Regions from separate parts of the Homo sapiens genome. Here regions 2, 3 and 4 are each reported to be linked to region 1. The links are microRNA targets in miRTarBase. Many come from high-throughput screens and were not tested one by one. Region 1 holds a microRNA gene; each other region holds the end of a gene's coding sequence. Distances are between the middles of the regions.
The links. Region 1 holds the annotated microRNA hsa-miR-548ac (CAAAAACCGGCAAUUACUUUUG, at 4,097-4,118, shown strand). A microRNA usually pairs through its seed, bases 2 to 8, with sites in the 3' UTR of a target mRNA and lowers its output. Matches are read on the target gene's strand: a 7mer-m8 pairs with bases 2 to 8, a 7mer-A1 pairs with bases 2 to 7 and ends in A, and an 8mer does both.

Region 2: miRTarBase lists HSBP1 as a target of hsa-miR-548ac. Seed matches in the 3' UTR shown: 7mer-A1 at 3,552-3,558 and 7mer-A1 at 5,936-5,942.
Region 3: miRTarBase lists DENND10 as a target of hsa-miR-548ac. Seed matches in the 3' UTR shown: 7mer-m8 at 1,114-1,120.
Region 4: the mRNA of RNF2 is a reported target of hsa-miR-548ac. Seed matches in the 3' UTR shown: 7mer-A1 at 2,452-2,458, 7mer-m8 at 2,462-2,468 and 7mer-A1 at 2,761-2,767.

Annotation. Positions count from the first base shown.
Region 1 is chr1:116,557,033-116,564,155 of GRCh38, reverse strand. It overlaps MIR548AC (microRNA 548ac), which reads left to right and starts at 4,045; the gene lies at 4,045-4,132. The region is part of intron 1 of CD58 (CD58 molecule); the gene reads left to right. It overlaps LOC105378925 (a long non-coding RNA gene), which reads right to left. Exons shown (of 3, transcript XR_947739.2): 3 at 2,969-7,123. RefSeq lists enhancers at 1,489-1,638, 4,238-4,477, 5,529-5,578.
Region 2 is chr16:83,808,776-83,815,875 of GRCh38, forward strand. HSBP1 (heat shock factor binding protein 1) reads left to right here. Exons shown (of 4, transcript NM_001537.4): 3 at 530-650; 4 at 2,646-7,100. The coding sequence ends at 648. Among named protein-coding and RNA genes, the nearest start is that of HSBP1, 4.3 kb to the left of the region's middle. RefSeq lists enhancers at 4,153-4,664, 4,665-5,176, 5,177-5,688.
Region 3 is chr10:119,136,083-119,143,205 of GRCh38, forward strand. DENND10 (DENN domain containing 10) reads left to right here. Exons shown (of 9, transcript NM_207009.4): 9 at 389-1,902. The coding sequence ends at 565. It overlaps SFXN4 (sideroflexin 4), which reads right to left. Exons shown (of 14, transcript NM_213649.2): 14 at 4,685-5,237. The coding sequence ends at 5,160. Among named protein-coding and RNA genes, the nearest start is that of SFXN4, 26 kb to the right of the region's middle. RefSeq lists an enhancer at 6,365-6,866.
Region 4 is chr1:185,099,370-185,106,489 of GRCh38, forward strand. RNF2 (ring finger protein 2) reads left to right here. Exons shown (of 7, transcript NM_007212.4): 6 at 422-593; 7 at 831-3,234. The coding sequence ends at 932. Among named protein-coding and RNA genes, the nearest start is that of TRMT1L, 54 kb to the right of the region's middle.

The DNA of each region.
Region 1 (7,123 bases):
AACTTTGAACTTGAGAGAAATTATTTAGGGCATCTGGTGGAAGAAATTTCTAAGCAGCAAAGCATTCAAGAGGTGGCTTGGTTGCTGTTAAAAGCATTCAGTTTTATATGTTCACAAAGATGTGGTTTGGAATTGGAACTTATGTTTAAAAGGATAGCAGGGCATAAAAGTTCAAAAAATTTGCAGCCCAATGATGCAATAGAAAAGAAAAACCCCTTTTCTGAGGAAAAATTCAAGCCAGCTGCAGAAATTTGCATTAAGTAATGAGGAGCCAAATGTTAATCACGAAGACAATGGGGAAAATGTCTCCAGGGCATATCAGAAACCTTCATGGCAGCCCCTCCTATCACAGGCCTGGAGGCCTTGGAGGGAAAAATTGTTTCATGGGCTGGACCCAGGGCCCCCCTGCTCTTTGCAGCCTCCAAACATGGAGCCCTGCATGCCAGCTGTTTTAGCTCCAGCCATGGCTAAAAGGGGCCAACATACCACTCAGGCTGTTGCTTCAGAGGGTAAGCCTTGGTGGCTTACATGTGGTGTTGGGCCTGTGGATGCACAGAAGTCAAGAATTGAGGTTTGAGAACCTCTGCCTAGATTTCAGAGGATGTATGGAAATGCCTGGATGTCCAGGCAGAAGTTTGCTGCAGGAGTGGGACCCTCATGGAGAACCTCTGCTAGGGCAGTGTGGAAGGGAAATGTGGAGTTGGAGCCCCCACACAGAGTCCCCACTGGGGCACCGCCTAGTGGAGCTGTGAGAAGAGGGCCATCATCCACCAGACCCCGGAATGGTAGATCCACCGAGAGCTTGCACCGTGTACCTGGAAAAGCCACAGACACTTAATGCCAGCTCATGAAAGCAGCCAGGAGGATGGCTGTACCCTGCAAAGCCACAGGGGAAGAGCTGCCCAAGGTTGTGGGAGCCCATCTCTTGCGTCACCTGGATGTGAGGCATGGAGTCAAAGGAGATCATTTTGGAACTTTAAGGTTTAAGACTGCCCTATTGGATTTAGGACTTGCATGGGGCCTGTAGCCCTTTTGTTTTGGACAATTTCTCCCATTTGGAATGGATATATTTACTCAGCACCTGTACCCCCATTGTATCTAGGAAGTAACTAACTTGCCTTTGATTTTACAGGCTCATAGGTGGAAGGTACTTGCCTTATCTCCGATGAGACTTTGGATTTAGACTTTTGGATTAATGCTGGAATAAGTTAAGATTTTGAGGGACTGTTGGAAGGGCATTATTGTGTTTTGAAATGTGAGGACATGAGATTTGGGAGGGGCCGGGGTGGAATGATATGGTTTGGCTGTGTCCCCACCCAAATCTCACCTTGAATTGTAATAATCCCCGTGTGTCAAGGGCAGGGCCAGGTGGAGATAATTGAATCATGAGGGCAGTTTCCTCTATACTGTTCTTGTGATAGTGAATAAGTCTCACAAGATCTGATGGTTTCATAAAGGGGAGTTCCCCTGCACACGCTCTCTCTTGCCTGCCACCATTAAGACATGACTTTGCTTCTCCTTTGCCTTCTGCCATGATTGTGAGGTTTCCCTGGCCATGTGGAACTGTGAGTCCATTGAGCCTCTTTCCTTGATAAATTACCCAGTCTCATGTATGTCATTATTAGCAGTGCGAGAATGGACTAATACACCCCATCTCTACAAAAAGTTAGCCAGGTGTGGTGGTGCACGCCTGTAGTCCCAGCTACTCAGGAGGCTGAGATGAGCCTGGCAATTGCTTGAGTCTGGGAATTTGAGGCTGCAGTGAGCCATGATGACACAACTGCATTCCAGCCTGGGTAACAGAGCAAAAAAATAAAAAATAAAAAGGTAGGAACTATTTTATTATTAACAGAGTCTGTCTTATTCTGCTGTTGTTGACATTTTACAGATCCTTTATTGCCAACTATCTGCATAACTAGATTTTAAGTTCCTTGTATGCAGAAGTCATGTATTATTTTTTAAAATTTTCCTTATATTGATCTGTTTTTTTTTAATAGTAAAGATTGTTGAATCTGAACATTAGATGACAATGTATTTGTCCAGCATTTCTCCATTTGAAATTATCTCACATTATTATGTGAGACTTGTTCATGTGCTTTGCTGGAGTTGAGACTTAGACAGTCTGTGTTTTTTTATTTAGCAAAGATAATCCAAGTTAAAATAGTGTTGTGTGTTCCTATAGGAAAACTAGGCCCAGTGTTATAACAGAGTGTAAGTAATAATAGCCACTAGGAGGTAAGTACCTGCTCTGTGCCAGGAGCTATGCTTCAGATTTGAGATGTTTTTATTTAATTGTCACACTGATTTTATTACATAGGGAACATTTAATAGGAGAACAAAGCTTAGGTAGGTTCAGTAATGTGTCCAAGTTCACACAGCAAATAAGTGGCAGAGTGAACTTGAACTTTGATTCTCTCTGAATCAGAACCTATTCCTTTATATGCTCTGTTGTATCCCTAGCCTGAGATCCACTAAGCAACTTTTTGAAGATGAGTACTACTGATTTCTTATATCCAACATGTATACATTGTCCAATGAAATTCTGCTAAAACATGGGAAATATAGGTCAGCACAATTACCAGTCATGCAAAATTGTATTTAATATCATAATTTGTAATGGTGAGGGGTGCTTCTTTGGGACATAGAATTTACAATGGCAATTTATTGACATATTTATTATTAACATTATTATATTTACATTCTCTAGGTACCCACATTTCACTCCTAGACACTTTTGCATAATCTCAATAACATCATAACATCTATAAATATTAACACTAATCCTGTAACATCACCTAACTTTTACCCGTATTCAGATTTCCCCACTTGTCACAAGAGTGTCTTTTGTTAAAAAACCCGGATCTAATCAAGTTTCACTCATTGTATTCGTTGCTATGTTTTTTTGTTTTAATTTTGATGGGCATCTTTCAGAAGTTTTAAAATAGTCTTAGAACCTCTTTTTAAGAACCAGATTTGAATAATTTATTTTATTGACCTCCTTGTCACTCTAACATTTCTTTAGTAAATACAGGCTTTGAGGGTAGGTATTGGTTTCTCTGTTTAAAAGTAGAAACTTTGCATAAATCAGCCCTTATATGTGTAAGTTTTCTGCCTTTTGGTTTCTTCTCATGCTGTTTCTGCACAAGTGCCTAAGCTTTTTTGAAGCTTTACTTGAGGGGTGACCAGAAGGTTTTACTTAAGGACACAGACCCTTAAATTCTGCAATGACAAATCTCAACTTCCATCTCAGGGTTGTAAGTGAAACCAGGATGCAGCCGTTTCTCTTTTCTCAGATAAGTTCAGGTTTGAATATAAAGTGTGACTATAAGATACAGAGACTGTCCCTAGAAAAGGAGGGGAAAACATTTTAGCAGTTCCTCTTTGGAGATAACTTTCAGTGCCTGCCCATCAGCCTCCAAGGAAAATGCTTTTTGGTTACTTTATAGGTTCTAGTGAACTTTGCTTACTTTACAATGTTCCCCAAAATGTCTGTTGAGATTAGTGCCTGAATTTCCACTGGGCTGACCAGTCTGTAGTTTCTTGAACATTTTCTTCCTATGCCAGTTAAAAATTAGAAGAAAATTGAAGTTTAACATACACATTCAGAAAAAAATAAAAAATCAGATTAATAAGAAACTAATGAGGCTGTGCCATTGTAAACTACTTGCAATAGAGTTTCCCAACGATGAACTGAGTATCTAGAAAATAACAAGGATTCTCAAGGAATTTTAGTGAAATGATCAGTACTGTATTGAAATACCTTGAATCAGACTTTGGAGAATAGATTTAAAAACACTCACAGCCTTAACCGATCTAGTAAGAACCTTATTCCCTAAAGCATACTGTGGATCTCAGCTGTATCCTATCTAAGGTGAGAACAGTCAAAGACAAATGTGGCCTTTGAGAAAGGTGGGATGTGAGTGTCTTGAAACAACAGGCTAAAGAAGTGCTCTCAAATAGAAGTATAATATGGAACATGTGAAATTAATTTTAATAATATATTTTAGTTAACCTAATATATCCATAATATTTTCATTTCGACATGTATTAGGTTGGTGCAAAAGTTATTGTGGTTTTTGCTATTTTTTTTTAATGGCAAAAACCGGCAATTACTTTTGCACTAACCTAGTAGTTACTACAAAAAAATATTAACAAGAGATTTTATGTTCCACTTTTTAATACCAGGTCTTCAGATTCTGGTGTGTATTTGATACTCAGAACACATCTCCATTTGAACTAACCATATTTCAGGTTCTCACTAGCCACTTGTAGCTGGTAGCTACTTTGATGGATTGCATAGGTCTAAAGGGAAACATCTTGAGAAAGAAGAAATAGGTTAAGTGCAAGAACAAGAATTAAAAAGGAAACTATTTTAGCATCATATTAGAAGGAAAGTACAGAAAGAAGTTGATTTAGAGAACCAACATCTTAATTCTTGATGAACTTATCGAGGAGGCAGATTGACAGCTGAGAGCAAGGTCCGGGAACCTTGCTCTGGCCTTGGGGACCGAGGGTTTGTAACCGTTGGGAGACAGGTGGCTGCAGTTTCAGTATGAAGTAGATGAGGGCAGGGAAACTGGTGGTGGTGTGGCTGAAATCAGTAAATCTCTGTCTTAAGGAAATAAGAGAAGTCACTAACTGGGACCGGCTAAGGGTGGAATCGATCAGGAAAAAAGAGGAATGGCCCCAACCAAGGCATCTGATGTTCTGGCCAACAGTGCAGGCTCTGGGGCCGACTGCCTGTGTCTGGACACCAGCTCTGCCCCTTGCTAGCTGAGTGAATGCAGTCAGCTGACCCTCTCAGTCCATTTCTTCATCTGTAGCCTGGTGCTTCGGAATCTTTGACCTTCTCTATCAACCAAGTGTCCAGCGGAGCAAACCACCTTACTTTGATAGGCGTGTTCTCAAGAAATAACTCCTTTCTCACTCTCACCCCAGATGTTCTTAGGCTCGCTCCCCTGCTTTTCTGGACTCTGCTCAGATGCCAACTTATGACTGCCCCCCATGCCATCCAACTCCTTTCCTTACCAGTACTCCTCAGCCCCCACACTCTGCTTTATTTTTCTCTATAGCACTTAACATCATCCAACATCATCCAAATAAAAGATATTTACTTTTTCATTTATTATGTTCTTCCCTCCACTGAAAAATAGACTCCAAGAGGGCTGGGATTTTGTCTGTTTTGTTCATTGCTATATCCTGCCTGCTTATTTCAGTGTCTGGCACATAGGCAGGACTCCATGAACATTTGATGAACAAATAAATGAATAATAAGAACTACCTCAGAGTTGAGTTGAGGATTAAATGAGTTAATACACAAACAGCTCTTGGAACAAGTGCTTGTCACATAGTAAGCCTGCAGTGAATCTTCGTGCTGCTGCTACTGTTAAATATTATTACTGAGGCTGAGCTGGCCTAGGGCTCCTTGGATTGGACTTGCTAAGAGCTAGGCAAGAGTCACAACTGTATGAAACTTGATTGAGTTAAAACAAACAGTGCTACTCCTCTTTATTATCTCCATGCCTGGTAAGCACATTTTCTACCCCCAAAATTGGGACTGACTAATATGAGAATATTTATGGCCTTAATAGGACAGGTTATTTGATACAATTACTAGCCTAGACATTTTAGGAGATTGGCCGCTCCTCAATACTATAAATGCATATATGGGTGTGTAGATAGAGATGTTGCTTCCCAGATTGCCACACATCCTGATACTGCAAGTAGGCATCAACTGAAAATGTGCCGTGATGTGAAGACCAAACGCAGAGAAGTGAGAGGGACAAGGCTGTGCTCAGTGACCCATATCCAGATGAGAAATCCATCTGCTCACTTGGGAGCAAAAATGCCCCAAGACCCTGCTATCTCTGGGCTTGCACGAGGCTTTAAATGAATCACCATTATGATGTCTTATATTCAGAGGGAAATACCAATATTCATATATTCAGGTACTGAAACTTTTAAGGGAATTTTTCTTTTTTCTTTCTTTTTTTTTTTTTTTTGGTCAAATGAACTTTTACTTTACCTGCTAAAATCTGCAGGCAGTGTGAGCCTTAAAATATTTTAGAGAGAGAGAGAGAAGTATCTTAAAATTACATTGTTTATTTCTAAGAACAAACTCAAGAAAACCCTTTCCTTCAAATCCCGGAAGAGTGATTAGCTTGTCTCTAAGGTATGGCATTGGCTGGGCATGGTGGCTCATGCTTGTAATCTCAGCACTTCAGAAGGCCCAGGGAGGAGGATCACTTGAGCCCACGAGTTTGAGATCAGCCTGAGCAACATAGTGAGACCTTGTTTCTACAAAAAATATAAAAATTAGCTGGGCGTGGTGGCATGCAACTGTAGTTCTAGCTACTTGGGAGGCTGAGGCAGAAGGATCACTTGAGCCCAGGAGGTTGAAGCTACAGTGAGCCACGATTGCACCACTGCACACCAACCTGGGTGACAGAATGAGACCCTGTCTCCAAAAAGAAAAAGGAAGGAAGGAAGGAAGGGGAGGGAAGGAGGGAGAGAGAGAGGGAAAGAAAGAGAAAAATAAAAAGAAAGAAAAGAAAGAAATGACATCAGTGAACCTCCTCAAACCATAGCGAGGCTGTTAAGTTTGATTGGGGCTGACATCCATGAGTGGGTACAAGTTTATCTGGTGTGGTGCCCTGCATCCTATAACACTTAGTTGGTAAAATCTACTTAAACTTGAGAGGGAACATCTCAAAAGGGACAGCTGTGGAGTTGGGAAGGTGGAGCCCGCAGGTCCTCCCATCTTGCTTTGGTGATGAGGCAGAAAGTGGGGCTGAAAAACTGAGTCTGTTTTGGTTGTATATGAGGGCTCCTGAGCCATTTTATTTTTAAGCTCCAGTTAAACTTCTTTCTCCATCTCTCCTTACGAAGTCCTCCTTCTTCAGCCAGGTTCCACAGCAATTTGGGATTTCACAAAGCCCAGGGTTTGGGGTGACTGTCAAATTTTGCTATTCTGTCAGGAAGCCTTATCTTTTGAACTACATTTAAGTTGTATTTTAATCATTTTAGTTAATTCATTCAACAGATATTTATTGAAAGTCCATATGCCAGACATATGGGGATACAGCCAAAAACAGGAACACCTTTGTCCTTGTCCTGATAGGGC
Region 2 (7,100 bases), not on the chromosome of region 1:
GTGGGCCTTTGGAGCCTATTTGCCGGGCAGTGGTGGGGATAAATGAGTAGTTTTCAGGCTAGCTTCAGCCATTCACTTGTAGAATTTGAGCTTGGATTGTACTGTGTTTCTGAGAAGGACTGCGCCGAGAGCTAGGGGCAAAGCTGAGTTAGACTCCTGGCTCAAGGAGCATACGTCTACCAATCCTAATAGCTGGTGTGGTGGACCATGCACTGTGAACTAAGCGCTTTTGTGTGTGTCTTTTGATGCTCAGCATGACCTTATGAGTGGGTTGTAGTGTTATCATCTTTAGCAAATGAATAAATTGAGGTTTAGGGGTTCCATCACTAGTAAGGGTCAGGGCTGGAATCCGATGCGGGGTAGCCATGCCCCACAGTCCTGTACTCTTACCCACCAGCGTGTAACAGTGTCGAAAGAAAATTGGAAGACCAGTTTCCCTAAAGTCGTTGTGTTTAAGGCTGTAGTCTGCAGGGACGGGAGGAAAAAGGCTCAATGAGATGTTGGCACGCGTTGTCTTTAACTTCAGCACTTGATGATATGAGTAGTCGCATTGATGATCTGGAAAAGAATATCGCGGACCTCATGACACAGGCTGGGGTGGAAGAACTGGAAAGTGAAAACAAGATACCTGCCACGCAAAAGAGTTGAAGGTGAGGAAGGGGGCAATTTTTTTTTTCTTTTCTTTTCTTTTTTTTTTTTTTTTTTTTTTTGACACGGAGTTTTGCTCTTGTTGCCCAGGCTGGAGTGCAATGGCACGATCTCGGCTCCCTGCAACCTTTGCCCTCCTGGGTTCAAACGATTGTCCTGCCTCAGCCTCCCGAGTAGCTGGGATTACAGGCTTGTGCCACCACACCCAGCCAATTTTGTATTTTTAGTAGAGACGGGGTTTCTCCATGTTGGTCATGCTGGTCTCGAATTCTGACCTTGAGTGATTTGCCCGCCTCAGCCTCTCAAAGTGCTGGGATTACAGGTGTGAGCCGCCGTGCCCGGTCTTTTTTTTTATTTTGTCTTAAAAGAATAGAGAGAACCTGTAAGTATAATTTGTATGTAGTCAGACATTCTGTAGATCAGTTCCCAGCCATGATCCCAGCAAGCATCACTGTATTGTTTACCTGCTGTGGACTTGATGTTTTGAAATTTTTCATGCCAAACTCATTCTTTACACCGAATTTATTTTCCCAGTTTTTATTAATTAGACTTCTGTCACTATTAGTGAAGACCACTGGCTAACATTAGATAACCACTGAGTTTTTATCATTCCAGCTAATAATTAAGGTGTCTTTTTGTTGGCCTATAAAGCCTGTCACTGGAAGATTTTCCATTGCTTTTTTTTTTTTTTATGGAAATAACTGATAAGTCACCCACATTACCACCTTCTTAAATGGCTTAAATTCTGGAGACTTTCTTGGTAACTTGACATAGGTGAACTAGATTGTGGCCACATTAAGCTTTTACCCTGGAGTTCATTTAAATTTCCTCTGAATAGTTTCAGATGTCAGAGGAAAGCCTAGTAATTCAAAGTACCTACACAGCAAGATAGGTAAATGTACAGAATCACTCAGCAGAGTGCATGGTGATCCTTTTCCTCTGTATGTGTGAAAAATAAGTTTTAGACTCACTTTTCTCTTGTTTCATTTATAACATTTTAATTCTCTATAAAAATGAATGTTGCTGAGGGAGGCGGAGGTTGCAGTCGAGGTCACGCCACTGCACTCCAGCCTGGGCGACAGAGTGAGACTCTGTCTCAAAAAAAAAAAAAAAAAAAAAAAGGTACTGGTGCGTGGTGACTCATGCCTGTAATCCCAGCACTTTGGGAGGCAAAGGCAGGCAGAGGGCAGATCAGTTGATGTGAGGAGCTCGAGACCAACCTGGCCAACATGGTGAAACCCTGTCTGTACAAAAATTAGCTGGGTGTGGTGGTGCACGCCTGTAATCCCAGCTACTTGGCAGACTGAGACAGGAGGCAGAGTTTGCAGTGAGTCGTGATGATGCCACTGCACTCCAGCCTGGGAGACAGAGCAAGACTCTGTCTCAAAAAAATAAAATAAAATGGTTCCTGAGTATTTTTAGATTCGTAGAGTACTAAGCAGAATGTACAGTAAAACATGCCTAATTTCCTATTTTCTGGGCTTGCTGTGGACCACATTTTAAGTCACTGTGAAATACAGATTTGGGATGTTGAAGACAGACTCTAAAATTTGCTTTTATCTTCACAGTAGGTGGGGTTCATTCACTGTGTGAGTAAATCACATAACTGCTTTCTATGGGTTATGTCATCGTTATTCTTATCCAGAGATAATTTGGAAAAATGTCCTACCAGTCTCAGATGCTTCTGTGGGTCTCTTTTTATATTATGTGGCAATCAAAACTGCCATCAACTGACTGATTATCTTACCACAAGAATTTCAGGATGGTAGACTGGCTAGTGATGGGGGTCATTCAAAGAAAAGAGTGGGAGTAGGAAACTGACTCTGAAACTTTTAAAGATATTTCCAGTTAAATCTATTGCTAAAATATTGCCAGAAGAAAATAAGTTTAACTCAGTAGGAGAGTGGAAAGGGATTTGTAGTTGATAGGTCTATATGTCATTTTTACTTGTGCTCATATAATGAAAAACATGTTGATGATTTTTCCTTCTTCAACAGGTTGCTAATAATTTATACTGGAATCTGGCATTTTTCCAAGCCAAGAGAAGATCGAATGGCTTTTTGCAGCTAACTACTATGTGTAGACAGGTTTTATATTATAAAGTATGCATTCTTATCACCTAGTATATAGTTAGTTTGTAGAGTGATTTCCCCCCAGTTTCTTGAACATGGTATCTTCACATCTTGGACCTTGGTCAGTTGTGCTATTCATTATTAAACACTAAAACTTTGGCGGTTCTTGCATAACATTGTCAGATTTTTTAGTGTATTTCTGTGAAGTCATTTTTTTTCTTGTCATTCCTTTTGTAGTAGTTGCTGTTTGGATAAAAGTTGATGTGTGATTTTTTATTAAACAAATAGTAAACCCTTCAATTATAGTTAGTCTTGGTGAAGTAAGATGTTTGTAGACTTTAGAGTTCTTTAATTCTTGGCACAACGTGACTGTTGAGCTAACACCAAATAGTGTGTTGGCAATACTTTTCAAATGGCTGAAAACACCTAAAAATTGTTCATTCAGAAATATCTGTCACTGCTCTGTTGCCAAAACTCAGAATAGAACTTAGACGTATGTCTGAGTCCCTGAGATCACATGCTAAAGTCGATGAAAAGTAACCACTGCCACTGTCTTGTGTCAGAACTTTTACAGTACAGAAAATAACAGAATAGCCTTCTGTAATGAGGCGTTTGTTAGAGTTTTGCATGAGATTCTAATACTTCAGTAGGACCCTACCTACGTGGTTCATCTACAATGGTTACCATAAAAAATCTGGCAGGATTTTAAAACTCAATCAGTCTTTCCTTTGAGCTAGTGACTTGAAAAGAAAGAGAGAAGGAAAAGAGACCATATTAAGTCCATGCCAGTTGCTTGGCTAGAATATGATCAACGACTTGTAGTAGACTCAAGTTTTTAAAAAACACTATTTTACTTAAACTGTTTCTTATCTAAATTCTTGCAGAGTGTCAATGTTATCATTGATTATAGAAGACAGGGATAATACCTTTATCTCTGGCCACTCAAAAATGCAGTGCCAGGAGTGCTAAACCTAGAGGCCAATACTGATGACCTGGAAGGTGATCCATATGATTGTCACCACAAAGTGCTTTTACACAAAAACTTGAAAATTTGAAAAACATGATTTTTTTAAGTTTCTCATCTCACCAGTCTTGGTGTTTATATTGCAAATCTATCAAAGTAAGAAATAATTTGTGCTGTATACAAATTACATGGGGAACATAAAGGAGTGAGATCCTTCTGTGATAAAATGAATTCACCACTCTGGTTACCCAACTACAGAACCTCCTTTGATCAGGCCAGTAGGTTGTGATGCAGGCTGGAGCCCCCGAATGCCCCACACACACTGCAGCATTGACCAGACCATCCGAAACCTGCGTCCCTGGTGATGTTCTCAAGCCTCGGAAGTGGCAAATGGAAATGATATGGCCGGTTGCGGTTGTAGGAGAGTTGTGACTTAGGCAGGAGTCGACCTCCTCAAGTAATGGAACGATTTCAAAGGCAGGCTGCCCTGACCAAAAATATCTGCCATGAATAAAGGTGCCTGAAATCCTGCTATGAAGCTTCCTTTGTGTCAAAAATCTGTTTGGTTTTCAGATGGAAATGCAGAAATCACATTAGAGTATCAACTAAAACCTCTGGACGGATTAAGTACAAGTAGCCCAAGGCAAAGCAGGAGAGGGGGTGTTGGGGGAGGTTGCCTGCTGGAAGGGGAAGCTGAGGAGCGGGAGGAGGGCTTGCCAAGACTGGCATTGCAGGAGACTTGTCTCAGGTGTGTTCCCAGAACTCTTGCCCCTGGAGATGCTGCAGGAAGGAAGGGGTTATGGTCACTTGGGTTTAGACGACATTCTGTGAACCTCATGAAGAAATTAGCATATTAAAGACTCTGAAAGTAGAGCAGAGAACTCAGCTTTAACCTGCTCACCTGCTAGTTTTCGAGGTCTCGCTCTGTTGCCCAGGCTGGAGTGCAGTGGCACAGTCATAGCTCACTTGGAGCCTGAAGCTCCTGGGCTCAGGCAGTCCTCCTGCCTCAGCCTCCCAAGTAGCTAATATTACAGGTTCGTGCCACCGCACCTGGGTCTTGCTGTGTTGCCCAGGCTGGTCTAGAACTCCTAGGCTCAAGCAGTCCTGTCTCAGCCTCCCAAAGTGCTGGGATTACAGGCTGGAGCCACCATGCCTGTCCAAGGGTCTTTTTTATACTATATGAAGTATTCCTTCTCCAGCTATTCTTGTTCGTTTACCAGCCAGTGAAGATTCTCTTGAGGGCTGAACAATACAGATGAGTATGGGGGCCCTCGCACCAAGGAAAACAGCGTTACATTTAATTAAGTGCCCTGTCTCAAACCCCAAGGCCCCACAGCTTCTTCATTTGGCCCCTAGTTCATCCTGCTTTCCTTTGAGCCACAGGATTTTAAAATATTTCAATCTTATTTTCATATCAATTTTTTCTTTGTTTCACTACAAGTACAGTCATTGTTTAACCCTATCAGGACTAACACAATATTTCACGTAACTAAGAGTTAATTTGCCCTTGTGAGTCCTTGGAATTTAAGCCCCACACACACACACTTAGAGCACTGTTGCTATGGGAACATAGAGTCCTCCAAACAAAAGTGAACTTTTTCAACATGCTGTTTGTAAATGGAAGCCTTCCCAAGCAGACACTGTGTTCCTCTTTTATTTTGTATTTTGCACATTATATATTTTGATTAGATTAAAATGGAGGAATTTGCAGGATGTGTTGTCATATCTAGCCCTGAAAGTTAACTGGTTACAGTTACCAAATGTTCACAGCTAGCGCCATTGAAAGCATTGACTGTAAACCGCTGTACTGTGCTAAGCCTTTTGTTTGCACTGTTTGGCTTAATCCTCACAACAACACTGAGAGGTTTTCATTTGATGAGTCATATTTAAAGAAAAGGAACCCAAGACGGGGAGTCAGGGGCACAAGGTCACAGCTGGTAATGATGACCCTGGAATGTCCTCACAGCTGCACACCTGCACCGCTCACAAACACAGCTGACCGTCTCACAGCTGCACACCTGCACCGCTCACGAGCACAGCTGACCGTCTCACAGCTGCACACCTGCACTGCTCACGAACACAGCTGATCGTCTGCCTCTTCGTGTGAGCTGAGCTCCGAATCTCAGCTGTCCAGGCTGTCTGGAAATCATCAGCCCCACTGGCTGGATCTCAAAATTTACTTTCAAAAGGCTGATGGAGTGTTTTCAATTAAACATGACCTAAAATTAAGTAATAAACACACTGGATGTGAGTTTTTATTTGGAATTTAAACTATTCAGAGCTGGTAGAAAATGTGTGCTCCTGGATCAGTGCCTTTTTTCTCCTAAATCAGTTGAGAACAACAACAGAAACAAATGACATTCCTCAAACATTTGCCCAGAGCACAACCACGGGGAATATGAACCACAGGTTTTCACATTGGTTTTCCATGCCTATACCTGTCCTGTCTCCCACAAAAATTATTGCTTGAGGCCCAACCCGGGGGATAAAAAGACACCCCCCCGCCACTCCGTGACCTATTAGCTTACCATCCTATTGGATTTCACTGTTTTTTGTTTTGTGGTGTTTTTTTTTTATTGCAACGAAGACTTTTAAATGGACTCATGAAGAAGCCATCACCTGGAATCTTAATCTTGCATTAATTTTAAGTGTCTGATTTTAGCTGCAGCCACTTGAGAACTTTTCAATGAATGAAAATGAGGGAGGGGAGATGCAAGTCACTGCCCAAAAACAAAACCAGAGGAATTGTGATTGAACATTGCACTTATCAACCCTACAAATTAATATGGAAATAGGAAAAGGGTTTGTTTCAACAAGTCAGGATGACAGTATTTTAAAAAAGAAAAAAAGGCCAGCCTGGGCAATATACTGAGACTCCATCTCTACAAAAAAGTAGAAAAATTAGCCCAGAGTGTGGTGGCACACATCTGTGCTCCCAGCTACTCAGGAGGCTGAGGTGGGAGGATCATTTGAGCCCAGGAAGTCGAGGTTGCAGTGAGCTGTGATCGGACGACTCCACTCCAGCCGGGGTGACAGAGCAAGACCCTGTCTCAAAAAAAAAAAAAAAGGGCGGATCCTAACGCTTGGTCCTCACACCTGAGGCTCTCACTAAGAGGTGGCTGGAAGCTCCTCAGACCGCTGCCTAGGGTTCGAGTGATCCTGAAAGCTGTACAACATCAGCCTCTGTGGGATCCCTGAGAATGATGAAATGTAATATGTGGCTGTCTCATCAACAGAGCTTCATTTTACCAAAGCATATGTAGACACCACATACATGAACTACATACCTATCGTGTAGATGCTGCCCTGCCTCATAAGAACACTCTTGACTGTCCTGCTTCACAATAATAATCTTCGCAATAATGATCTAATAATGGTCAAATTCTGTGTCTCTACCGTAGAAAACAGAATTTGAC
Region 3 (7,123 bases), not on the chromosome of region 1:
TGGGTAGATCACTTGAGCCTGGGAGGTCGAGGCTGCAGTGAGCCATGATTGAACCACTGCACTGCAACCTGGGTAACAGAGCGAGACCCTGTCTCGAAAACAACAACAAAAAAAGGAGTTATCTTTTTTGTTGTTCGTTTTTGAGACAGGGTTGCCCAGGCTGGAGTGCAGTGGTGCAATCATGGCTCACTGCATTCTCTAACTCCTGACTCAAGACATTCTCCTGCCACGGTCTCCCAAAGTGCTGGGATTACAGGCATGAGCCACCACGCCAAGCTCATTTTTCATAGTTTATAAACAGTCTGGAAAAAATAGGAAGAATTCTAGAGACTAAATATTCAAATTTCGGATACTAACATGTTGCATATATTTTCCTGTTCTATTAAAGGATATTGCTCTAAAAACAAGAGAAATCTTTACCAACCTAGCACCGTTTTCAGAAGTTTCGGCTGATGGAGAAAAGAGAGTCCTTAATTTGGAGGCGCTAAAGCAAAAACGATTTCCACCAGCAACAGAAAACTTCCTTTATCATCTAGCAGCAGCCGAACAAATGCTGAAAATCTGACTGTGTGACAGAACGTATCACTGATGACTGATAGAAAGCCCTCTTTCACTCTGATTACCCACTCACTACATGAAGTCCTGAAAATAACAGAGAAACTGTTATATCTTTTTAATGATTTATTTGCAAGTATTGAGATTTGACCTGAAAAACAATGAAACACATGAACACACTTCCGATTTTCTCCTCGCTGATTAGCTTCCTGCCTGCTGTCAGTGCTGGACGAAGTGCTATAACTACTTTATGTAACATTACAGAACAGCTAGAGGTCCTGGGGTAAGAGAAAAAAAGCACATCACAACAAATGTGAAAGCCTTCATTATTACACGTTCCAGTTTGTCTCGCTGTGTAGGCATAAGCTAATGGTTTATTTTCAGAAAGCTGCCTGAAACGTTGCTTTGTATTCTTCTAGGAAGAACTTTAATTCCTCCTGAGGAACTCTACTTTCTGAGCCAAACTGCTAATTTTCTGCGGAACTGTCTAGAAGATCATTCAAGAGACCCTGCAGTTGCACTTTCTCGTAAAAGTTAAAAAAAAAAAAAAAAAAAAAAGGTTTTTCCCGGCCTTTGAACATTTTGCCTATGAGAGTTTTGCATATATTTTATACTTGAGTAGACAACTTTAATAATCCATATTTATACTATCGCAGAAGTAAGCATTTGGCAAACGTTCAGCCATTAGCACTCATTTAACCCTGTTAGCAATATTCTTTTGAAAAAAGTGCCAGTCCTTATGTGATAAACTAAGAAGCCCATTGAATATAAAAGTGTGTAGGACTGAAACAGTGACCTTATATTATTGCTAAGGGAATATGAGATTAACTTCCTACAGGGGCCAAAACCAGAGAAAGGCTTCCAGCAACTTCGATGAAAGTAGTTTGGCCACATGTCAAGCCAATTGTTTGTACTATTTATGTACCTTTTTCATAACTGGAATTGCCAAATAAGCATGGAGATCTAAATGATGTACTTGTTAGTGTATTCATTCATATTGACTGTAAAGGATTATTTTTCACTCAGTACTGATGTCCTTGGAAATCTTACCTGGAAACATGTTTGCAAAAAACATTATTGGGTCTTTCATCTTTTTCTTGGTATTACATATTTGTTCAATAAAAATTAAACACCCTCCCTTTTTTTTGAGTGAGGGCAGGGAGTACCTGAAATAAGACAATGTTTACTAAGGCAAATAATTGAAAATTAAATCTGCACTTTATGGAAATGAGGAATATTAACATCTTTTTTCTCATTTTTTTGTATTACTATATTAGCTAATGATCAAAGTTGTTAAAATTATAAATTTATGATGCAGAAATAAAATTGATATATTTTGATATTCAACTACTTTTAGGTGGGTGACGAATTGTCCCCTCTTTCTCTAATACTGCTCATTCCAAAGAAAATGGGGAAAAAATACCTTTTTTCAACTGTGAGGGCGCTAGGGAATTATTAAAAGACCTGTCTGAAAGTTCAAGACGGCCAAGGGCGCGGTGGCTCATGCCTGTAATGCCAGCACTTTGGGAGGCCGAGGTGGGCGGATCACCTGAGATCAGGAGTTTGAGACTAGCCTGGCCAACGTGGTAAAACCCCATCTCTACTAAAAGTACAAAAATTAGCTGGGTGTGGTGGCACATGCCCGTAATCCCAGCTACTTGCTATTTGGGAGGCTGAGGCAGGAGAATTGCTCGAACCAGGGAGGCGGAGGTTGCAGTGAGCCGAGACTGCACCATTGCACTCCAGCCTGGACAAAAGAGCGAGACTTGGTTTCAAAAAAAAAAAAAAAAAAAAGTTCAAGCCGTCCCCCACACACCCTTTCCTCCCGCCCTAGCCCTCCTCCACTCGCCTTCCTGGAGCTGCCTCTGTAACTTCAGTCTCCTGTCCTTGGAAGATGCCTTCACATTTCTGTCATCTGTTAGCGGTTAAACCTCCACCTGCAGCTGTTGCCCATCTTGTTCTCTAACTTTAATTTTGGTTAGTGTCAGCCTATGGTCAAACTGAGCCATTTACTGATTTTGTCCTTTTAGGCTGTTATGAAACTTTCCTCACCAAATTTGGAAATGAACCATCATACTGGCCTTGGGGAAACAAAACCACAGATAAATTCTTTGGTAATGTGGGGTAGGGTGTGTTGGAAGCATTAGTCCAGTACTCAAATGTTGAGGTACCTACTCTGTGCCATGCCTGTGTTGTATTTTGAACTACCCTGATGGGCAGCAGCTCCCGCTCTCGCGGTGCTGCGCACAGTCCGCTTGGGGAATAGGGTCAGCAAACAGGCTGCTGTAGTGTGGCTAGTGCTAGGCGTGATGTGTGAAACAGAGTGGTATTGGAGCACATAGATGGGGACCCAGTTCAGTGCTGTCAATCCTGGAAGGCCTCCCAGAGGGAGTGATCAATGTCAAAGTCAGGCCTGAAGCATTAAGTAGACATCTACTCAGACCAGAGGAAACAGCTGTGTGAAGGCCCTGAGAAGAGACCACAGCCCATGTGAGGACCTGGAGGGTCTACAGGGAGGGGAGGGAGTGGCAGGATACGAGTATGGGAAAGGCTTGCTGTGGTGAGGAAGGTGGGCTTGATCTTGACGCACTGGGAAGCCATTTAAGGCTTTTCAGGCCCGGTGCGGTGCTCAGGCCTGTAATCCCAGCACTTAAAGAGGCCAAGGTGGGTGGATCGCGGGGACAGGAGATGACAGCCTGGCCAACATGGTGAAACCCCATCTCTACTTAAAAAAAGCAAAACAAAAATTAGCTGGACGTGGTGGCTGGTACATGCCTGTAGTCCCAGCTACTCAGGAGGCTGAGGCACAAGAATCACTTGAACCCAGGAGGTGGAGGTTGCAGTGAGCCAAGATCGCGCCACTGCACTCTACACTCCAGCCTGGGTGACAGAGTGAGACTCCGTCTCAAAAGAAAAAAAAACAGTTGTTCAGCAGGTGTGGTTTAGAAGAGCAGGCTGGAACGTGGACCGGAGGGAGTAGGCAGGAGATGGGCCAGGCAGTGCCAGCAGGGGATGCTGTTGGACTGCGCTGGGTGGTAGCAGTGGGCATATGTGGGTTCCAGACTCCATGTACTGGGCCCTGTCTACTGCATAGGCTGGTAAGGTGGGGAGAGGGCGCCTCCAGTGATCCTGTCTGGTGCACCTGGGGAGGTGGTGGTGTCAATTCCTGAGACTGGGAGGGAGAGCTGATCTCAGGTTCGGATGGGTTGAGTTTGAGGTGTCTGGGACATCCAAATGGCAAAGTACAGCCAAGTAAGCAGCTCAGTGACCAGCCTGAGTGCCCAGCAGTGTGGCAGTGCCACATTCAGGTGGGTCACGGATGAGAGAAATCTTAGCAGAACGGGAGGTGGGGTGGAGACAGTGAGGGCGGACAACTCTTTTAAAGTGTCTGGCTACAGCCAGGCGTGGTGACAGGCGCCTGTAGTCCCAGCCACTCAGGAGGCTGAGGCAGGTGGGTCCTCATTGAGCCCAGGAGTTCAAGGCTGCAGTGAGCTGATTGTGCCAGTGCACTCCAACCTGGGTGACAGCAAGATCCTGTCTCTAATGAGGCAGGTGACAAGCAGTTTATTTCTTTTTGAGACACAGTCGTTCTATTGCCTAGGCTGGAGTGCAATGGCATGACGTCAGCTCACTGCAACCTCCGCCACCAGGGTTCAAGTGATTCTCCTGCCTCAGCCTCCTGAGTGGCTTGGACTACAGGTGCGCAACACCACGCCTGGCTGATTTTTATATTTTTAGTAGACACGGGGTTTTACCATGTTGGCCAGGCTGGTCTCGAACTCCTGACCTCAGGTGATCCACTGACCTCAGGCGATCCACTGACCTCAGGCGATCCACTGGCCTCAGCCTCCCAAAGTGCTGGGATTACAGGCGTGAGCCACCGCGCCTGGCCGACAAGTAGTTTACATACTTCTGGGAAGGACCTGGCAGACAGAGGCTACAGAGCACAGCCCTGAGGAAGCAGAGAGAGGCCCAGAGCCTGGAGGACGCTGGCATTACACGGAGGAAGGATGGGTGTGGGTGCGGGTGTGGGGGGCTCCACTGCTGACCTGTTTCCTGGCGGAGGAGGCAGGGTCCTTTGCCAGAGAGGAGAAAGGAGGCACTGGGCGGAGGGCGGCAAAGGTTTTAAGTAGCTGTCTAGAATGGAGGACACTGAGTAAGGAAACAAGATTGCTTTTGGGGTTGGAGGGCGTAAACAGCGCCCCAGGGGTACGTGTTCCGCTTGAGACGGCCTATCCATTTAACACCTGTGTCCTGGGCACGGTGGACTCTGTGTTCTTTCTTCAAATCCTCAACTTGAGACAGGTTTATTAGTTAATTAGTGATTTCACAGTATCCTTTCGCAGGCCGATCCCCACTCCAACCGTTCCCTCAGCAACCCCAGGGGTGTCAGACGGGGCACCCTCCCACTGTCTTCTCCAGCCAGCCTTAAAAACCCCAGAGACGCCAGCCTGGGAACGATCTCAGTATGGAATCTGAAGTCGCCTTGTCAGCACAGACACCTCTGGGGTCCCCAGAAGACCTGTGGCAAAGTTCTCTAAACCGAACCTGGAGAGGGGAAGGTTTTCAAGCAGGAACCACATAAATTCACCTAAAACTCACGCCTACACCCCTCTGTGATAAAAGATTTCTGTTTCTTCTGTTGGAGACTGAATTTTCTCTTCAAGACTACAGTACTGTATCTGAAAAATAGTTAAATTCATAATGTTTCTATTAATAGTTTTTCTTGCCTTAGAAGCCAAGTTAAAAAAATCATTTTCTGAAAGCAACCATTTCACAGTCCATCTTTTTCAATAATGTCTAATCTATAGCAGAAAATGTAACCTATTTTTTTTTTTAATCACCCAAGCAGTAAAGAAACTTCTTAAACTTTTTTTTTTTTTTTTTTTTTGAGACAGAGTCTTGCTCTGTTGCGCAGGCTGGAGTGCAGTGGCACCATCTCAGGTCACTGCAACCTCCACCCTCCAAGTTCAAGTCATTCTCATGCCTCAGCCACCCGAGTAGCTGGGATTGGGATTACAGGCGCGCACCACCATCCTTGGCCCATTATTGTTATTTACTTATCTCTACATTTGTTTATAATTGAAAGTTTCCATTAAAAAGTTTTAAGATGGCTGGGCACAATGGCTCATGCCTGTAATCCCAACACTTAGGGAGGCTGAGGCAGGTAGATCACTTGAGGCCAGGAGTTCAAGACTAGCCCGGCTAACATGGTACAAAAAATACAAAAATTAGCTGGGTGTGGTGGCACACACCTGTAATCCCAGCTACTCCAGTGGCTGAGGCACGAGAATCACTTGAACCTGGGAGGTGGAGGTTACAGTGAGCCGAGATCAGGAGGATTGCTTGAGGTGGGGAGTTTGCAATCAGCCTGGGCAATATAGTGGGACCCTATCTCTACAAAAAATAAAAAATTAGCCAGGTGTGGTAGTACGTTCCTGTAGTCCCAGCTACTTGGGGGGCTGAGGTCAGAGGATCACTTGAGCCTGGGAGTCAAGGCTGCAGTAAGCCATGATCATACCACTGCCCTCCAGCCTGGGCAACAGAGTGAGAAACCCTGTCTCAAACACACAAACAAACAAAAAACAAATGTAGAAGGAATGTAATGAACTCACATGTGCTCACTCAGGAATCACTATTAACAATTTGCAGATCTCATTTCATCAAGCACCTCCCACACCCAGCAGTAGGATTTTTTTCCTTGAGTATTTTAAGGCAATTCTCATGTCATGTCACCTACAAGTTCCAAATGATAAAGACCTTATCATTATTGATATAGTACTTGATATAGTAATGACAGTAGTTACAAAACTACTATGTCATTGTCACACCTAACAAAATTAGTAATAACTCCTTATCTCATCTAAGCACCTCCATGCCCTCCTTGAGCCAACAGGATATTTTGTGTCTTTTTTTTTTTTTTTTTTAAATGAGATGGAGTCTCACTCTGTCACCCAGGCTGGAGTGCAGTGGCGCGACCTCGGCTCACTGCAAGCTCCGCCTCTGGGGTTCACGCCATTCTCCTGCCTCAACCTCCCGAGTAGCTGGGACTACAGGCACCCGCCACCACGTCCAGCTAATGTTTTGAATTTTTTTTTTTTTTTTTTTTTTTGATATGGAGTCTTGCTCTGTCGCCCAGACTGGAGTGCAGTGGCGCGATCTCGGCTCACCGCAAGCTCTGCCTCCAGGGTTCACACCATTCTCCTGCCTCAGCCTCTCGAGTAGCTGGGATTACAGGCGCCTGCCACCATGCCTGGCTAATTTTTTTGTATTTTTAGTAGAGACGGGGTTTCACTGTGTTAGCCAGGATGGTCTCAATCTCCTGACCTCGTGATCCGCCCGCCTCGGCCTCCCAAAGTGCTGGGATTACAGGCATGAGCCACCACGCCCGGCCCCAACAGGATATTTCCAAAGTCCAGCAAGCAAGTCTTGGCATCTGAGGTCACGCGTGAGACTGACTCCCTTTCCTGCCTCCACTCTGGCCTCTGGGAGTTCTGCCCCTTCCAACCTTGCATGACTTACCTGCTGCCCTGCTCCTTGGCCTGGCTGTGCAGGCCCTGCCACCTGG
Region 4 (7,120 bases), 69 Mb from region 1:
GTCTTAAAAGACATTTTAATTCTTAGACAATAAGAAATTTGCTTCTATTCTGTTTCTGTTGCTGCTATAGCCAGCAGATTCTGGTCATTAGGGTTTGGGGGGTATGTTCCTTTTTTTCCCCTTAGTACTTTGTGTATTTCTGTTTGATTTTTGTCACTGTGTATCTCATTTTATAGAAGGTAAGGTAGGTAAAGCTTTTGTGACCTGACAGTAAGATATTGAGTATTTACTTTCCCCTCTTCTGTACCTATCAATAAGAAATTTAGATTGTAGAGCAGTAAATTTCTGATATTATTTTGTCAATAATTGAGACATTGCCATTTTACTTAGTTTTTAAGAAATGTATTAGTTCCATAATTTAAGTACATTTTTCTCATTGGCATATTCTAGAAATGAAATTTTTAATGATTTATTCTTCTAGATACATAAAGACTTCTGGTAACGCCACTGTTGATCACTTATCCAAGTATCTGGCTGTGAGGTTAGCTTTAGAAGAACTTCGAAGCAAAGGTGAATCAAACCAGATGAACCTTGATACAGCCAGTGAGAAGCAGTATACCATTTATATAGCAACAGCCAGTGGCCAGTTCACTGTGAGTATTTAAAATAATAGACTGTTGAAACTGGGAGCACACTGACCAACTAACTGAGTGGCAAGTGGTGGGGTAGAATCTAATAAATAATGTAAAAAACCGTAACAGTGTTAAGTGACAAGTAGTTATTCCTAAGATTTGAAAAAAAAAGATTCTGTGGACTTCCATTTTAGTTTCATTTCATTATTATTGTGGTTTGTGCAGTTTTCATAATTTTTTCTTTCTTTTTTGTTTTAGGTATTAAATGGCTCTTTTTCTTTGGAATTGGTCAGTGAGAAATACTGGAAAGTGAACAAACCCATGGAACTTTATTACGCACCTACAAAGGAGCACAAATGAGCCTTTAAAAACCAATTCTGAGACTGAACTTTTTTATAGCCTATTTCTTTAATATTAAAGATGTACTGGCATTACTTTTATGGACAGATCTTGGATATGTTGTTCAATTTTCTTTCTGAGCCAGACTAGTTTACGCTATTCAAATCTTTTCCCCTTTATTTAAGATTTCCTTTTTGGAAGGGACTGCAATTATTCAGTATTTTTTTCTTTCCTTTAAAAAAATATATCTGAAGTTTCTTGTGTTTTTTTTTTTCCCCACAAAGTGTGTTTCCACTTGGAGCACCATTTTGACCCAGGAATTTTTCATAGTTTCTGTATTCTTATAAGATTCAGTTGGCTGTCCTTTTCCTGCTCCCCTCAAAAGATTTTTAGTCATACAGAATGTTAAATATTATGTATTCTGACTTTTTTTTTCCCCCGGAGTCTTGTATATTTATAGTTTTCTATATAAACTGTAGTATCTTCATGAAGACCCAAGGCTCAAATTTACTGTCCTTAAAAACAATTCTCATAGGATTATTCTTTTCATGGTATTTTCTTCCATAATATCTCATTTTAAAAAGAAGTTCTTTATGAACTTAGTGTCCATTGTCATGCAATGTTTTTTTTTTTCCATTCTTTTTCCCTGTAATTTTGGAATTTCTGGTCCTGGGAAGAATCAAACAAAATCTTAAGTTCTATGAGAACTTGGTTCATTGACATATTCTGCTGAAGAAAGAAAAATTAAATTGGTAGTAAAATATAGTCTTCAAGTATACGTTTGAGAGTGCTTTTTTTTGTATTAGTTCTGCTGTCACTTCATTTCCTGTATTATATGTGATGTTTTTCCCCATTAAAATACCAGAGATAATGGAGATATTTTGCACTTTAGCCTTGATGAAAAGTACAAGATATGTTCAAAGCTTCCCTAATTTTTTTCTTATTTGTAGCCACATAAGTTTCAAGAATAACATGGCACACAGAACAATGGAAAAAAGTTTGTTTCCATTGGAAAATTATATCATTTTGGGTTGCCACATCAGTTTATAAATTTGGCGCTCTTTTAATTACACTCTGTAGAAGGTTAATAGAGCTTGAGCCCTGCTTTAATATGTAGTGAAAGATAATTCTGTAGAAAAACGTCAGCCAGTAGGGTAAAGTCATTCTACTGTTCTTAATTTTTATATTGAGGAACAATATTGGGTGTTTGGGAGCCAGAAAGCTTTGTTGACAGATCAGAAATAAGATTGACTTGGGTGTTATATTTCATCTCTCTCCAGACTCTAGGTATATTTCCAACTTTATATATCACAGTATTTAAAAAGACATGTTTGCATTGAGAAATTAACCCTAAAGGGTTTTCAATAGGGTGTAGACCTCCAGTACCTTTGTAACTAAAGTCTGTCTAGTCATTGTAAATATTTATCTGTCAGTTTTGACAGATTGGGGCCAGCTTGATGTTTTAAATCTTCAGCCCGGTATGAAAACTTAAAGGTATATATTCAATTTTTTACCATTTTATGGAAAATATTTAAAATCTGTTTTTACAGGGTTTTTTTTTTTTTTTTTTTTTTGTAATCTGTGCCATGAAATTTGAAAACCACCAAAAATCAAGGGAACTTTTATATATTCAATTCCTTTTCTGGTGTAATGTTAAAGTTGTATAGATTATTAATGCATGCCCACTGAATATAACCCTGGTTTTGTGATAAAACTGCTTAGATTTTGTTGATGACATTAGATTAGTAGTTGCATTAAATAACTAAATTCCCATTGTGATTAATTGAAATTTTGTCTTTAAGCAGAGAGTTATTTGTGACTATAAGCTTTGTGCTTAGAGAATGTATGTGTTTTTATCTGTCAGTATGGGAGGATATAAACTGCATCATTAGTGAAATTATTGGTTGTGTAATCCTTTGTGAAATATAATTCTAGGTATTTGATAGGGTATTGAGTGTATTTTGTGTGTGTGTGGATGTGTGTTTTGGGGTACGGGGAGAGGCGATGCTATTGGCCATCACTACCAACCAGGGTTTCAAAAAGTATTACCTAAGTAATTTCTTTTATCACTATCTCAACTGAGGAAGAAAAGGCTCACCACAAGTGGTGTGAAGGCTTTGGGTACTTAGTTCTAAATTTTTTTATGGTAACATATACATAGCCACATTTACAGTTTTAACCATTTTAAGGCATGTAATTCAGTGGGGTTAGGTACATTCACAATGTTGTGTAATGATCACCGCTGTCTACTTGTAAAACTTTTTCATCACCCCAAACAGAAACTCTGTGTGCAATTAAAGTAATGCATTTCTCTTCTTCTTAACCCCTAGCAACCTCTATTCTACTTTCTCTTTTTGAATTTGTCTATTTTAGGTGCCTCATGGCACCTGTGGAATCACACATTATTTTCAAGGTTCATGTGATAGCATATATCAGAATTTCATTCCTATTTATGGCTGAATAATATTGTATGTATGTGCCACATTTTGTTTATCCATTCATCTGTTGATGGAGACTTTTGGTATTGTGAATAATACTGCAGTGAACATTATTATAGAAGTATATAATTGAGTTCTGCCTTCTGTTATTTTGGGTATATATGAAGGAATAGAATTACTGCATCATATGATAATTCTATGTTTAATTTTTTGAGGGACTCCAAACTGTTTTCCATAGCAGCTTCATTATTTTACATTCCTGCCACCAATGAACAAGCGTTCTGGCTTTTCCGTATCCTCTGTAACACTTGTTATTTTCTTTTCTTCTTTTTAAAATAACTATATTAATGGGTATCCTTATGATAGCTGTCTTACTGGATGTCTCCTTTCATTGTGGTTTTAATTTGCATTTCCCTAACAGCTTGTGATGCTGAGCATCTTTTTCTGTACTTGCTGGCCATTTGTGTATTTTCTGTGGAGAAATGTGTATGTGTATTCAAGTCCTTCACCCATTTTTGACTGGGTTCTGTTATTGTTGAGTTGTGGGCATTCTTTATTCTAGTTAGTAATCCATTATCAGATACATGATTTGCAAATATTTTCTCCCATTCTTTGGGTTTTCTTTTGATTCCCTTGATAGTGTCCTTTGATGTACAGAATTTTTTTTATTTTGGTGAAGTCTAGTGTATCTGTCTTTTTTCTTTTGGCTATGCTATTGGTGTCATATTCAAGAAGATTGCCAAACCCAATGTCATGAAGATTTTCCTCTTTTAAGAGTTTTATAGTTTTAGCTCTTAGTCTTTGATCCATTGTGAGTTTTGTATATGGTGAAAGGTCAGTGTCCAGCTTTGTTCATTTGTATTTGGATATCCAGTTTTCTTAGCCTTTTCTCCACTGAATGATCTTGGTGCTCTTGTTCTAAATCATATGTGAGGGTTTATTTCTGGATGTTGTATTCCATTGGTCTATATGTTTGTCCTTATGCCAGTACTACACTATTTTGATTACTTTAGCTTTGTAATAAATTTTGCATTATATCATTTCTAACCCTTTGAACCTTAGGAAGACAGTATTTCCTTTGTGTACATTTGAGAAGACAAAGGCTCAGGATTCTGATTTGGATAACTAAATGTGAAGTAACTGAAATGCCAAGTGAGAAAAGGCATCTCTTAAATTCCCATTTCTATTCAGAAAAGTTTAAGTTTCCCCCAAAATAGCCTCAAAACTCCCCAAAAATCACACTCCAGTGAATTATCACTCTTGGCCTTTCTGGAACCTCACTGAAAAGCTCTTTTTCTCTGAGCGTGTCTTTGACTGGACTCAGCTCACTTTGCTTAAAAAGCTCTATCTTCATGGTGTTTGTAAAAAATCGTTCCTGCCGTTGTTTAACACAGCAGTTGCCTGAGGCATGTGGGCCTAAAAAGCAGCTGACTAAAAAGTAGGAAATGTAGAGGGCTTTGAAAAGTTCCATTATGTTCCTGGGAATCTCGAAGGCCACACATTTGTGCAAGACTGTTGGCATGCCCAAGAAAAAAATATAAGGCACTAACCTCACCTGTAGCAGACCCTGAGGCTCTGTGCCAGCAGGAAGTGAAAGGTAAGCCACAGTTGTAAACTACATGCTGGAGTTTTGAAGGCATATCCCAGACAGAGCACTTTAGCAAGACAGAGACTTACTGGTTCAAAGCATTTAAGGAAATCTGTCTAGTTATTAGCTGACCACTAAGCTAATGAAGCAGACTTCAGTGGTCACAGCAGAGAATGCAAACATTACAGAGTTAGTCAAAAGAAGGCCACTAAACAGCAAACACAACAAACCCTGGGGACCTAAAGGGATTCTCATTTCCAGAGTTGCCACATTGTATTATAGTCTTCCCCCATTATCCAGTTTTGCCTTCGTGGTTTGTTACCCATGGTCAACTGCACTCTGAAAATACTAAATGGAAAATCCCGGAAATAACTCATAAGTTTTAAACTGTACACCGTTCTGAGTAGCCTGAGGAAATCTTGTGCCGTTCCACTTGGGACATGAATTATCCCCGTGTCCAGCATATCTTTGCTGTATATGCTACTCGTTCATTAGTCACTTAGTACCTGTTAACGGTTCCCAGATTGATTGTCATGGTATTGCAGTGTTTGTGTTCATTTTACTTAATGGCCCCACATTGCAAGGGTAGTGATGTTGGCAATTTGGATATACCAAAGAGAAGCCATAAACTGCTTCCTTTAAGTGAAAAGGTAAGAGTTCTTGACTTAATAAGGAAAGAAAACATAAATTATGCTGAATTTGCTAAGATCTATGACAAGAACAAAGCTTTTTTCTATGTCAAAGTTGAGACAGATCTCATGAAATTGTGAACAGTATATTATGATTGTATATTATTAGTTGTTGATCTCTTACCATGCCTAATTTATAAACTTTACCATATATGTAGGTGTAGAAAAAAAGAAGTACAGGGTTTGGTACAGCCTGTGGATTCAAGGATCCACGGCGGGGTGGGGGGATCTTAGAACATACCCTCAAGGATAAAGGGGGGACTATTTTAAAAGCCTAGTTTTCAACAGAAAATTACAAGACCTATAAAGAAACAGAAGTGTCTGTGAGGAAGTCCAGATGTTGGACTAATTAGACAAATACTTTGTCAGCTTTTAAAAACATGTTCAGAGAACTAAAAACCATGTCTGAACTAAATATGAGAGGAATGTCTCACCAAATAAATATCAATAAATTACGAACAAACCAAATGGAAATGTGGATTGAAAGATAAAAGAATCATAATTTAAAATTCACTAGAGTCTCAACAGTGGATTTGAACTGGTAGAAGAAATAATCAACTCGAAGACAGGCCAATTGAGAATATCCTGTCTAAAAAACGAGTGAAAAAGAGTGGAACCTCAGAGACATGTAGGACACCATCAATTGTACTAGCACCCAGAATTGGAGTTCCAGAAGGAGAGGAGGGAAAGGGGCAGAAAGTGTATATTTGAAGAAATAATTGCCAAAAGCTTTAAAAATTTGATGAAAAACATTACCTGCACATTTAAAAAGCTCAACGAACTACCATATAAATTCAAAGAGATCCACAAAACTAAGAGTACTATGAACAGTATGAGAAAATCAATTCATAAACAAGGGGTCCTAAATAAGATTAACAGCTCACTTCTCACAATAAGCTATCACAGAGGCCAGGATGCAGTGAATGACATTCCCAAGTACTGAAAGAAAAAAATAGCCAAGAAATCTGTATCAGTAAAATTATTCCACAAAAACGGAGAAATTAGTAAGACATGCCCATATAAACAAAAACAAAGACTATCACTAGCAAACCTTAACCACAAGAAATACTAACGGGAGTTCTTTAGGCTGAAATGAAAGATTAGATAGTAACATGAATCCACACAAAGCAATAGCACTGGAAAAGGTAACTGAATAGTTAAAATATAAAAGACAGTATAAATGTGTTAGCTCAGGCTGCTATAACAAGGTATAGACCAGACAGCTTAAACAACAGATACTTTCTTCTCATTCTGAAAGCATGGAGGCTAGAAAGAAGTTGCAGAATATTTTCCAGGTGCTGAAAGATAACTGCTAATCCAGGTACCTTAGCAAAAGTATCCTTCAGTAATGAAGGGGGAAGAATTTGCTGCCGGCAGACCTGCCCAAAAAAGAATGGCTAAAGGAAATTCTATAAACAGGAAGGACATGATAATAGAAGGAACTCTGGAACATGATATAGGGAGAAAGGACGCAATGAGAAAAAAAAAATGACT